3 separate regions of the Homo sapiens genome follow, and all the other regions are linked to region 2. Evidence: fine-mapped expression QTL. A gene starts in region 2. Each other region holds a variant in brackets. All regions are shown on one strand. Distances are from middle to middle.

Region 1 (2,844 bases), 140 kb before region 2:
GAGAACTGTAAACAAAAAAGCTGGTAAAATAAAGTCAATGATTCAGGTACTGATGATTAAATCCAGGTAATTGCTCTCCTGTCACCTGTGGTTTGAGTACTGGTATGATAATCATCAGAAATTATATCAAAAGTCAGAGAAGACCCAGTGTGGTGGCTCATGCCTATAATCCCAGCACCTTGGGAGGCTGAGGCGTGTGGATCACTGGAGCTTAGGAGTTTGAGACCACCCTGGGTAACATGCCAAAACCCCATCTCTACAAAAAATACGAAAATTAGCTGGGCATGGTGGCACATGCCTGTGGTTCCAGTTACTTGGGAGGCTGAGGTGGGAGAATCACTTGAACCCTGGAAGTTGAGTCTGCAGTGAACCATGATGGCGCCACTGCACTCCAGCTTGGTTGACAGAGTGAGACCCTGTCTCAAAAAAAAAAAGAGGAGCCCTCTCATTGATTTATTGCCCGTTGTGCGTCAGCACTGGCATCCTATGCACCATCTTGTTTCACCCTTACAATAACCTTCTGAACCAGATCTTCTTTTTCATCACCTCCCTTTTACCAAGGATGGCCCTGGGACACAGAGAAGTTGAGCATTACTCAAGGTCACCTAGTAAGCAACAGACAGCACACATCTCCAACCAAGGCCCAGATGATCCTGAAGCCTGGGTTTCCATCCCTCCTAGTAAATGGGAGTTGGAGGCTGTCCTCAAAATAGCTCCCAGAGATACTGATTTTTTTTCATTCATAGCTATTTTCTGAAGAACAGACTGCTTACTTGCCTTCAGTTATCAAATTTAAACGGCTTCTAATTCTTATCTGTTTTTTCATTTGCTCACTTGGCTTTTCCTGACAATTTAATTCTTGTCCACTACTCATAACTGACCTTCCCCCATCATCTGTGTTTTGACTACTGCTATGATCATCATCAGAAATTGTATCAAATTGTGGTGTGATACAGTTGGTAGGTATCCCGTGGTGTTAAACAGGTGCAAGGTGTGGCTGAATGGAAGGGGAGTGAGGCTGGGTTGAAGAGTGGTCCCAGAGCAGACCTTCAGCCTGGCCACACCATTGTCAGATGGCTTTGTCCCTCTGCCTTCTGTTCTGCTGCTAAGTGAGGAAGAGCACCTCACGAGTCACATTTCAGCAATTGTATCACTTTTTCCTATCTTGCTGTTGACCAAAGTATATTGAGTG[C/T]ACTGTGTCTTTTTATTCGATTGAACAAAGGATGGAATATAATGATCAAACAATGAAATGAGCACAGTGGAATAATCTTTGTTTTCATACATGTAAAGAATATCTGGCCGGGCACGGTGGGTCATGCCTGTAATGCCAGCCCTTTGGGAGGCTGAGGCATGTGGATCATGCAGTCAGGAGTTTGAGACCAGCCTGGCCAACATGGTGAAACCCCATCTCTACTAAAAATACAAAAATTAGCCGGGCGTGGTGGCAGGTGCCTGAGTCCCAGCTACTCGGGAGGCTGAGGCAGGAGAATGGCTTGAATCCGAGAGGCAGAGGTTGCAGTGAGCCAAGATCGTGCCACTGCACTCCAGCCTGGGCAACAGAGCGAGACTCCATCTAAAAAAAAAAAAAAAAAGAATATCTACAAGCAGGATGAAGCAGGATGAGTCGCCCATGTTTGGTTCTGTTCAACAAACATTCATTAAGCCCTGCTGTGTGCTGATCATGAGGCCAGACCCCAGGGCACACTGAGGGGACAAGAAGACATGGTCCTGTCCTAGAGGAGCCATAATGATGAACTAAAGTTGTTTTTATTTTTCTTCCCCTTGTGTCTGTTTTTTTCACTCCTCTGAAATAAGAATGAATAAGGAGAAATGGCTACAGTGGATCTGTAGCTGGGGATTCATTTCTAGACCTTGGTGCATGTATATTCCATTGTGCAACCTTTATTCTAATTTACTTGGCCATTATTCTTCTAATTTATACCCTTTCAGAGGGCACAAAAATCAGCTAAAAGGGCAGTAATTAAGATTTTACATGAAGGTTGCATATCTAATATTTGACCATAAATAATTTTGTAACAAGGGGGCTAGAAACAGTTTCCAGCCTGTAAGCAGTGATAAAATGCTTTGAAAGAACCAGATAAATTTCTAATTATATTAGAGATTAATGAGGCATCCTTGTGCCAACTCATATTTCATTGTTGACATCCTACAGATGAGCTACTCCTGAGACTAAATGAAAACAGTCTAGATGTCAGATGCTCCAGGGTGCTTGAACAGAGCATTAAAGTTTAAATTGTATAATGAATGATAAAGCAATGTAGAAAATGTGGGTTGTTAAAACTGTTCATATGTGGCCAGGCATGGTGGTTCATGCCTGTAATCCCACCACTTAGAGAGGCCGAGGCGGGAGGATTGCTTGAACCCAGGAGTTCGAGACCAGCCTGGGCAACATGGTGAAATCCCGTCTCTACTAAAAATACCAAAATTAGCCAGGTGTGGTTGCAGGCACCTGTAATTTCAGCTACTTGGGAGGCTGAGTCAGGAGACTTGCTTGAACCTGGGAGGCAGAGCTTGCAGTGAGCCAAGATCTCATCACTGCAGTCCAACCTGGGTGACAGAGTGAGACTGAGTCTCAAAAACAACAAAAACAACAACAAACTTGTTCACTTATAAGAGTGGAGAAGCTTGAAAGGCAGGCACACGGGAGTTCAAAATCCTGCTAGACTGCTTCCTTGCAGCATGGCCCTAAGTAATCCGTGAGCCTCAGTTTCCTCAACTATTGAAAGGACAGCAGACCTGCTCCTGTCATTGGGCGGAAGAGGGGAAGTAATGAATGATACTTCCAGACCCAAGGAATGTTAACTTCCTCCTCCTCTGCTTCTC
Region 2 (2,500 bases):
AACTTCTGAATTAAGAAGGTTCCTTGGCTGAAGTGCCGGGGTTTTTGTGCCAGATCCCTCCCCCACTTCTCTTGTCTTTGCGGGGTCCCCCAGGGCTTTCTGGGCTCTGTTCAGGTGCCCCCCGGCCTGGTGCAGTTGGGCGGCCAATGTGGCGCGTGGGCTGGGGCCCCAGGCGGGGACGCCGCTGCCCGCCACACTCCAGGGGCCTTTGTCCGCGCTCCAAGGAGCCGCCCCCTTAGCGAACGGGGGACGGAAAGGGAGGACTGGCTAGGCCTGGGTGTGACAGAGCAAGGACGGAGGAGTGAACCCGCTGCACGGGGGAGATTTCTGGGGCAAGGTCGTTGGCCCCTTCCCAGGCTGTTCAACCGGCTGCCCGGGGCCAAGGCGGGTGCGGGCTCCTCCCGCGCGCTCCCTTTTCGGCCTAAGCGCTAGGGACCCCGGGATGTGTGGGGTCCTTGTGGGGCTGGAAGCCTGTGTCCCCCAAGGAGAGGGGACCGAGAACAGGTCTAGTCCTTATCTCCAGCCTAGCCGCCTCTTCCAGAGGTCCAAGTGCCCCCTGTCTGGAAGGGAAACGCCACTGCCCCCCCCGCCATTGTATGCAGCCGCCCCCTCCTCCCCACCCCTCCCCGTCATTCGTCCCCAGCCCAGGTCTCAGCTCTGCCATCTCCCACCGCCGTGTCCCCCCCTCCCCTTGCTGAGTAATGCGCACTCAAGCCGGCTGCGGGCTTGACCCCCAGCCCCCGCGACAGGTGCGGCTGTTCACCCCCAAAGTCCAGCCCTTGTGCCCCCGGCTGCGTCTGCCCTGTCCACAGTCAGCCCCCAACGCGGCCCCAGGACCAGCCCGCAGCTCCTCACACATGACGAGTCACTAGGACACGGCTGGGCTCCTTTACCCTCCCAGCTGCCCTTCACCTGTGGTCGCCCCCACACCCTCCTGGGAGACTTGGATCTCTACCTGGTCCGGGCACAGTCTCCCTCCCCCCGTAAAGGTCCCCAGATCCTCCCCTCCCCCGCCCACCCCTCTACGGCTCTGCTCTCGTCGCACCGTGGTTCCCCTCGCCCAGATTCCACATCTCCCCCAGCAATAAACTCCCTGGCTTGGGTTGGGGGGGCGCTTAGAAAAACACAAGAAGCGGACCCCCCAATTCTCCCAAATCCACGGCGGGAAAAGTTTCTGGGGTCCCCACAGCGTCCTCCACTGCATCGGCGCAGCTCGCACTTACCGACCCCCGCGGCCCCGCAGCGCCGACGCTCCAGCTGGCCTTCGGCCCGAGTCACATCTCTGCGGCGCGGCCGCGGCCCCCGCTCCACGCACGCCCGCCTGCGGGTCCAGCTTCACTGCAGCGCCTGCCAGAGTCGCTGCCGCGCGAGGCGCCCCCTGGCCCGGCCCGCGCTGCTGCAGCGGCCGCGGCCCCGCCCCCGCCCCCGCCCCCGGCCGGCCCCGCCCCCGGGCCTCCGAGCCCCACCCCCGGTCCCGCCGGCGGTTCCGCGCGGGGCTAGGCGCCGTCTGCATGCACCCCCGGAGCCCAAGCTCGTAGCTTCTAGCCCGGATCTCAGAGACGATTCCCCCGACCTCGTGCCCCCAATTCGGGGACATTCCCCCCACAACGTCAGTGCGCCCGTAAGCAGTCCAGACGAGCCGGGCAACTCCCCAGGGTAGATCCATTTGCGGGAACACTCCCCTAGCCAATACACTTACCGAGGGAGGTATCGCGACCCAGGGGTCCCAGCGCGGAAGCCTTCCTGCCCCCAGGCCACGCTCCAAGGGGGGTTCATAAGCAGTAACTTCCCCGAAACACACCAGCACCAGGTCCAGGACGCAGAGAGGATCGATCCCGCCCGGTGCCTCTCGAAGTCACCAACGCCCCGGTATACACCTAGGCGCACACACACCGCTAGGCCTCCTCCAGGCAGGTTCCTCCTGGACACACTCTTCTCTCTCCTCACTGCCCAACTCCCAGATGTCGTTGTCCGTTTACGCACACTGGGACCAACACCCGCTTCCTTGGCCCCTCGAAACACACACGTCCAGTCGGTGCACCCCTCACGTGGGTCCCTACGCAGGATCGCCACCACCCCTACCGCACACATCACCCACGTACGCACATGTCCACTGCCCTTCAGGGCTCACACACTCAGCGGCCCGGGCCACTGGCCGTGCGCTCCGCAGACGGTCAGGGCACAGCCCGGACGCGTGTCCGCTGGGCGGCCGTGGGACCTGCTTGAAGGAGGGGTCCGGGGCAGCCGTCTCTGAGTCCCCCTCACCCCGTCCTAGTCCTCAGGCCTCTCCGAGGTCGCATTGCTTCGACCAGGCCTGGGAGCTGCGCTCCGGCACCCCATATGGGGCTGGTTCCCTGGGTGACCTTCAGACCATCAAACCCTGGCAGTCTCAGGTGGCCCCCCGCCAAAGCCAGAAACAGACCTTTGAGCAGCATCCCTTCCCTGCACTCCAGATTCTCAGGGTGAGATTTCCTTTCTCCCTCCGCGGTGCGCCCCCCAA
Region 3 (2,500 bases), 190 kb before region 2:
GCCTTCCCCTGATTTCTTGAAACCATTGGTTCTGGCTCCGCCCTCTAGTCCAGGGACCTCTTAGAACAATGATGTGTGTTTGACAAGCCACACCCACAGAACACTTGACATGTGGTTCAAAATTACGTGTCTTCATACCGAGGCAATAGGCTGGGTTTAATCAGAGGTGGTCACTGACAGCATAAATGATCATAGCCCAGAAGTCCCAAGCTTGCAAGAAAAATAAAGCCCAGAACCATATAATTTGGAGCTATTTATATTTAACATTTATGTCTCTTTCTCTGGTGGAGAGAGGGGTTGATGGTGATAGTGATTCTGAAAGAATAGCAAAGATGGAATGTTTCTGAAGAACATTTCACGTGGCATCAATACCAGCGATGTTCACTGAAAATGTCTGTCCATATGTGCACATTTATTAGAAAAACATCGGTCAGGCATGGTGGCTCATGCCTGTAATCCCAACACTTTGGGAGGCTGGGGAAGGAGGATTGCTTTATTCCAGGAGTTTGAGACCAGCCTGGGGAACATAGTAAAACCCCATCTCTAAAAAAATTTTAAAAGTTAGCCAGGCATGGTGGTGTGCACCCTGAGTAGCTGGGACTACTCAGGAGGCTGAGGTGGGAGGATCGCTTGAGCCCAGGAGTTTGAGGCTGCAGTGAGCTGTGATTGCACCACTACACTCCAACCCTGGCAGCAGAGCAAGACCCTGTCTCTAAAATAAATAAATAAATAAAAACATGGTCATATGGGTGGACCAAGCTGAAACTGAACATGTTATCCTTCTTTTATTTTATTTTTTTTTTGAGACAGTCTTGCTCTGTTGCCCAGACTGGAGTGTAGTGGCACAATTTCAGCTGACTGCAACCTCCACCTCCCAGATTCAAGTGATTCTCCTGCCTCAGGCTTCCGAGTAGCTGGGACTACAGGCGCGTGCCACCACACCTAGCTAATTTTTTGTATTTCTAGTAGAGACGGGGTTTCACTGTTAGCCAGGATGGTCTCGATCTCCTGACCTCATGATGCGCCCGCCTCAGCTTCCCAAAGTACTGGGATTACAGGCATAAGCCACCGTGCCCGGCTATCCTTTGTTTTAATGGTGCAATTTGAAGTTCAGCTCAACAGCCATACTGGAGTCCTCTGAAGTCTGGTACCCCAAGAGCATGAGGCTTGGTATCCAGGCCCATCACAGACCAGGAAGGGCCTGGTGGATTTCTCCCCACTGAGTGGGGTGGGCGGCTTCTTGCTGTTGGAAAACCCTGATGCCTGTGCCGTTCTGAGAATCATATCGCAGCTCTGGTAGCAACCGTGCTTCCAAAGTCATCCTCTAAGGCCACGTGAAGGTGCCAGCCTCATTTTAATCACAAGCTGTATTTTATGAAGTTGTTTGTTTGGGTGTGGTGGAGCTGGGAACCATGCCAAACCCC[G/A]AGAGCTTCCTGGAAATGACAGTTCTCATAGGAAAAGCAGCTCTTTTCTATTTAAAACCTCTGTGGCGAGGGGAGGGGATCAGGCCCTGATTTGGTTCCCAAGCTACGTGTTTGTATTTTTCTCGGTGTTTGAATATATCAGCTGGCATGTGTCTCATCCCTCAGACACGTCTCCAATGATTTCACTTTTAATGGGCTTTGGCATTTAAAACACATGCGAATTGAGCTTTTTGCTAATTGAGAAGATATGGAATGGAGAAATAGCCAATTAGGTATTGTGCTGCTTGTCTGACTTTTAAAACAGTTTCTCCCACTTCAGTGAAAGGTAGTCAAAGGGCCTCTCTCCAAGGAGACTTTTAGTTAGCTCTGAAAGAGTTTTATTTTAGCTTGGTCTTGTAGATTCAGGCAGAAAGTGGGGCTCCCGTTCTCCCAGGTGTCAGACGAGGACCAGGTTAAAAGGAGAGCAGGATGGGCTCAGGTTCCCACTTGGGGCATAACTGCATTGTCTGTTAGAACAAATGAAGGCAGAGCAGGTGGTCGCCAGCCAGTTTGCGAGTCCGTGCCCAGCAGGTGCCAGCCCGCGTGCCCTGTGCCAAAGCGCTTTTCTCTTGTAGCCCGCGGGCCTGGGCGCCCACAGCACAACCTGCTCCCTGATGATTGGGCTCTTTGCCGTCGGCTCTGCTGCTTCTGTGACTGTCGCTGCTCTAGGCTGTTGCCAAGGCAGGCTCAATTTTGCCCGGAGTGGGGAGGGGAGGTGCCGAAGAGTCTTAATTACCACTCAGCCACCTTGCCCAACTGCATTTGAAGCTGTTCCTTGACTTTTTCTTTAAGACAGGGTCTTGCTCTGATGCCCAGGCTTGAGTGCGGTGAGATCATAGCTCACTGCAGCCTCAAACTCTTGCCCTCAAGTGATCCTCCAGCCTCAGCCTCCTGAGTAGCTGGGACAATAGGTGTGTGCTACCATGCTCAGCTAATTTTTTTTTTCTTTTCACTAAAAGACTTTAAATTCTCACTTGGGAAAGGACAGTAAGAAGGGGTAAATCAGTTGGCATAGCAGCTCGCAGGCGCCATGTGAA

The links.
Region 1: its variant is fine-mapped to the expression of GPRC5B in whole blood (INTERVAL, PIP above 0.99).
Region 3: its variant is fine-mapped to the expression of GPRC5B in whole blood (TOPMed, PIP above 0.99). The same link has a PIP of 0.9 or more in blood mononuclear cells.

The regions. Positions count from the first base shown.
Region 1 is chr16:19,739,392-19,742,235 of GRCh38, forward strand. All of the region lies in intron 4 of IQCK (IQ motif containing K), which reads left to right. Among named protein-coding and RNA genes, the nearest start is that of IQCK, 23 kb to the left of the region's middle. The variant C/T (reference allele first, on the strand shown) is at 1,193.
Region 2 is chr16:19,883,504-19,886,003 of GRCh38, forward strand. GPRC5B (G protein-coupled receptor class C group 5 member B) reads right to left here and starts at 1,345. Exons shown (of 4, transcript NM_016235.3): 1 at 1,224-1,345. RefSeq lists an enhancer at 1-88 and a silencer at 1,604-1,898.
Region 3 is chr16:19,695,104-19,697,603 of GRCh38, forward strand. The region is part of intron 29 of VPS35L (VPS35 endosomal protein sorting factor like); the gene reads left to right. Among named protein-coding and RNA genes, the nearest start is that of KNOP1, 22 kb to the right of the region's middle. The variant G/A (reference allele first, on the strand shown) is at 1,425.